Linked DNA regions of Homo sapiens: region 2 is linked to region 1. Evidence: fine-mapped expression QTL. Tissue or cell type: whole blood. Region 1 holds a variant in brackets; the other region holds the start of a gene. All regions are shown on one strand. Distances are from middle to middle.

The links. PIP is the estimated chance that this variant, and not a neighbour inherited with it, causes the effect.
Region 2: SRA1 starts here. The variant in region 1 is fine-mapped to the expression of SRA1 in whole blood (INTERVAL, PIP above 0.99).

What each region holds. Positions count from the first base shown.
Region 1 is chr5:140,596,922-140,599,681 of GRCh38, reverse strand. It overlaps a transcript of TMCO6 not described here. Among named protein-coding and RNA genes, the nearest start is that of SLC35A4, 33 kb to the right of the region's middle. The variant C/T (reference allele first, on the strand shown) is at 1,231.
Region 2 is chr5:140,556,383-140,558,882 of GRCh38, reverse strand. It overlaps SRA1 (steroid receptor RNA activator 1), which reads left to right and starts at 1,410. Exons shown (of 5, transcript NM_001035235.4): 1 at 1,410-1,455; 2 at 1,611-1,736. The coding sequence starts at 1,431. It overlaps APBB3 (amyloid beta precursor protein binding family B member 3), which reads left to right. Exons shown (of 13, transcript NM_133173.3): 13 at 62-615. The coding sequence ends at 298. RefSeq lists enhancers at 981-1,040, 1,131-1,490, 1,356-2,177.

The sequences.
Region 1 (2,760 bases):
TGATCCGCCCTCTTCGGCCTCCCAAAGTGCTGGGATTATAGGCGTGAGCCACAGCACCTGGCTGGAGCTGTCAGATTCTACTGCTACCTGGAGAGTGTCCTATAAACAGCAAAGAGCTTCTTGGTTTATAATCGCAGTTCCAAGGTGAATGTGCAGCATCTTGTTTGGAAGGCTAAGAAGGTAAAAACAACTTACCTTATAGGCTATTGCATTCTGTTTGCCACTACATTTGGGTTTTTACTGATTCATGGGTGGTGCATACTGACGTGATCATATGGTCAGGCTGAAGAGCAATAGAAAACTGCCCTCTTAAAGGGATCCCCTAAGAAAATCACTATGGAAATTTGAGGGATAGATTAAAGTAGGACATATCAATGCCCAATAGAAGAATCACTTTCCTGGATTGGAAGGTGATTGGCACCAGTGAGTGAATTTCCCAGTGTGCTCACTTGAGGTGGCCACCTGGGTCCATGGAATGAGTGGACCTAAGAATACTGTGGCAATGTAGAGATCTAGACATATTCCTCTTGCACCCTTTGAAGCACAAAATGCCAACAAGAACTGTTTTGTCTGCCAGCAAGAGAGACAGAGAATGCAGGTGGCCCTGGGGCACATTCCCCCGTTGGAAGGCCTCACACATAGCTGGTAGATAGATTACATTGAACAAATGCTGGCAGCCCTGGGGGCTACAAATGGGGTCTGACAGGAATAGACACTTACTTTGGTTTTTTGGTTTTTTTGTTTTTGAGATGGAGTCTTGGTCTGTCACCCAGGCTGGAGTGCAGTGGTGTGATCTCCGCTCACTGCTACCTCCTCCTCCTGGGTTCAAGTGATTCTCCTGTCTCAGCCTCCCGAGTAGCTGGGATTACAGTCGCCTGCCACCACACCTGACTAATTCTTTTGTAGTTTTAATAGAGACTGGGTTTCACCATGTTGACCAGGCTGGTCTCAAAATTTGACCTCAGGTGATCCATCTGCCTTGGCCTCCCAAAGTGCTGGGATTACGGGCGTAAGCCACTGCACCCGGCCAGGAATAGACACTTACTTTGGACTGGGCTTTGCACACCTAGTGGTAGATACGAATGCTGAAAATACTATTAAATTATTGGAACAAAAGATACTGTACTAATTTGGACCACCAAGTTACATTTCTTCAAACCAAGAGTCACACTTTACAGCCCATGATGTCCAACAGTGGACAAAGAGATATCACATCAAACAGACATACCA[C/T]GTTGCATTGTCATCCTCAGAGTAGCAGTTTAATAGGGAATTGGAATGAGCACTTGAAACATTCATTGTCTAAAATGAGGTGAGTGAGGGTGCAGTGGCTCATGCCTATAATCCCAGCACTTTGGGAGGACGAGGCGGGAGGATCACTTTAGCGCAAGAGTTCAAAGCTGCAGTGAGATATCATGCCACTGCACTCCAGCCTGGGCAACAAAACAAGAACCTGTCTCTAAAAAAAAAAAACCAAATAAAATAAGAAAATAAAATTTAAAAATCAAGTAAAATGGGGGAGGGGATAAAGTTATGAAGCACTTGTTTAAATGTTTTCATGAGGGTATGCTCACATGCACCATGAGGGGGCCAAGGGAGAATCCCCATTGGAGAGATTCCTCCATTTTTCTAGGAAAATCTAGGGGAGAGGGGTTGAGGGAGGGTGTTGGTATGACTATATGATTCTTGCCCACATCACCTCAACTTTCTTTTTTGCCATCTGATGCAGAGGTTCCAGGACTAGAGATACATCTGCAGGTGCCAGAAGCATAGATAATTCCTAGGCAAGACATTGTAACTATACCTTTAAATCTTTATTTCAGCATTTCTAAGGACCCTATAGGTTAAGTTGTGCCCTCAACCCATCTGGCAAAATTTGAGTTGACAGTAAATGCTGCTGTATCATCCAGTGGCTAAGATAGTCCATTAGTCCTGTAGCTATATAGCCCTAATCTATATAAATTGGAGTGGACTGAAGGGGAGGCACTTGTTAAACTACTATTGTTGCCAGCAATCTGGACTAGCACAGTGGCCTCTCCTAATGTCCCTTCCAAAGGTAGAAAAGTTTGGGTATAAATGAGAGAATGAAGAATAATAGCTGAGGGTATGGAATGAATAACCCAATTAGGGAAATCCAATATTATGCTAACACTTTGAAAGAGACCCAGAGCAAGGGATGATATGGTTATACCAGAGGTCTGAAAGGATGAAGCCATATTTTGCTGAGACCACACCTGCTTTTGGAATTTAACAAGATTGAATGGAAGCCTGCACACCTGGGTGGCCTTTCTGTGGGAGACATTTTGGTCATAGTATATGATAATGAACTGATTACTCTTATATTTCATATTACATCTACCTCAATTTGATATAATACAGCCATTATTGGCAAGATTATAATACTGTACTGAAACTGATAGCCAAATGTATTGCAAAATTGGATTTAAGACCTCCTATCCCTACCCCACACTGACTTCTCCAAATATTAGGCATATTCATGTTGGTACTATTGCTGTATCTGTTATATAAATGCTACACCAAATGTGGATGATCAGACAGGTATGATCCTTTTGCTGAAAAGGCTAGGGGGTGGCCTGTGATATAATAAAGAATATGTCTGGTCTTCAACCCCAGTTCCTGGCACAGAGCTTCAAAAATCTTTAGAATTATAGGAGCCTGTTATGCTAATGAGTTGTGCAAGGCAGGTTTACTCTGCACTGGTTACCAACTTATCTGAGGCTGGTGAGACACAACACCCTCACA
Region 2 (2,500 bases), 41 kb after region 1:
AAGCTTTCAGGGAGTCTAGAGGCAGAAAGTAGCTGGATCCTCACATTCCCCTTCTCCCTAGGTTCAGTACCAGAAGTGTCTTGTGGCCTCTGCAGCTCGAGGCAAGGCCTGGGGTGCCCAGGCCCGTGCCCGCCTGCGGCTCAAGCGGACCAGCTCCATGGATTCCCCAGGAGGTCCCCTGCCCCTCCCCCTGCTCAAAGGAGGGGTTGGCGGTGCAGGGGCAACCCCTCGAAAGCGGGGTGTCTTCTCTTTTCTTGATGCCTTCCGGCTGAAACCCTCTCTGCTCCATATGCCCTAAACTTATCTGGGAAGGCTGGGGAAGTAGGCTCTGGGTCCATGCCTAACTCTGTACCGTTTTATTCCTCAAGGCCTATAGCCTGTCACTCCTTGAAGCCTTCTCTGCCTGTCCCTCCGATCCTTGTCCACCGTCTATTTATTGCCCAATTTATTGTTTATACGGATGACTGGGAGGCACTGCACCACAACGTAGGACCCTGGCTCCCCTTTCCTTGGGTCCTTGTGTTCCTTGCCCCTGTCCAACCCTGGACAGTTGGCTCTACCTCAGTAACACTTTATAGCAAAATCAGTGCAAATAAAAATCCCTCAGTGACCTCACTGGATGTGAGTATATTGGGCCTGGGACAGGGCTGGGGGCTAACACCCTGTGTGAGATGAGTGTCTTTGTGTCTGTGCTTGATGTTGGTGGCTCTCTGTAGTCACATGACAGCATGGGTGTGATGGAGATCTGACTTCATTCAACAAACATATTTTCTAAGGAGTTCCCTGTGCCAGGCACTAAGCTGGGCACTGGGAATGTAATAAAATAGTCAAGGTCCCACCTTCTAAGACTGTCCGACAGGGAAACGAACAAGAGTCAAATAAGGCAGAAGATGTGATGTAATACACCTACGAAATCTCAGAGGGTTGTAGGGTCGTGGGAGCTCAAGTGAGACACTTAACCTGGCCTGAGACATTCCAGAAGGCCTCCTGAAGAACTGACATCTGAACTGAGAACTGAAGGAAGATGAGTACTAGTGAGGCTACCGGACGTGAATGTGGAGATTGTGCAGGGCAATGCAAGAGGAGGCTGTAGAAGTCAACCTGGCTAGATCACAGCGGGGTGTATGTGGGGCAGGAGCTTCTTTGTTTGAATTTGCTCCTGAGAGGATGAGGCCTCCTAGAGCACTGGCTCCTGGACAGCAACCTCCTTTGGTGCCTTGTGACCAGGGCCCTGATGGTTCATTAGATGGAGCCTTCGAGTCTTAGGGAGTTGCCGCAGGGTCCCCACAGCGGCTCCCGACGGTTGTGAACCAGCATCCATCCTCCACGGATTCCGGCAACCCGCCTGGCCCTGGACGTGTCTCAACTGGCCCGCGTGAGGGGCCGCCCCGGAAATGACGCGCTGCCCCGCTGGCCAAGCGGAAGTGGAGATGGCGGAGCTGTACGTGAAGCCGGGTGAGCGCAGCCGGCGGGCTAGGGCACTAGGTTGTCGCCCCGGCCTAGGCTGGGGGCGGTTGCGGCGCTTAGTATGGACCCTCTGTCTCCCCCAGCCCCAGTATAAGCTAACAGTGGAGTTCCGGGCTCGCTTCACACATCCCTCGCCTCCGCAGGCAACAAGGAACGCGGCTGGAACGACCCGCCGCAGTTCTCATACGGGCTGCAGACCCAGGCCGGCGGACCCAGGCGCTCGCTGCTTACCAAGAGGGTCGCCGCACCCCAGGATGGATCCCCCAGAGGTGCGTGGGGCCCCTGTGCTCGGAGACAGACGGAGAATGGGGGGGGGGGGGTGTAAGGCATAAGCCTGTTTGGAAGGCTTTTTTCTCTCCCCGAGGGCTCCTTAAGGAGAGAAGTTTTGGGGCTCCAGTAAGGGTCTCAGAGCAGGTGCTTTTCCGAGCCCCTTCTCTGCTGCTCAGGTTAATAAATGGTGTATTGATTTAAAAAGACTATTTTTTCATCCTAGATGATCTTATCCAGACCTGTGGCTTTTAATATAGTTTTAATCCTGAAGTTATTTTTCTTTGTTAACCTATACCTCTTGCCAGAACCGTATAGTGGCATATTCATTTGTCCATTCTGTCTTCACTTAGGTATATGATAATCGTCAGACTTCACAGTTTTTCATTCATTTAATCACTGTTATTTACTGAGCACTTCTATAAGTCAGGCACTGTTTGAGGGCGAACTAGACAGCAGTGAGAAAAAAAAAAAAAAGATCTCTGCTTTCAGGAAGTCCACGTTGCAGCACTGGAGATGGGCTGAAAGATGAAATAGTGGTGAGGGTGCTACAGAAAATAAGCGGTGATGTAATATGACTGGGTAACGAGGTGTCTGAGGGGCTGACATTTAAGCCACACAAAGATCATGTACAAAAGCATTCCAAGCAAAAGAAACAGCTGCAAAAGGAATAAGTTTGGCCAATTCAGAGACTGATGAAATACAGAGTGGCTGGCTACAGCATAGTGGGCTTTGTAAAGCAGGATGAGGAATTTGTATTTTAATC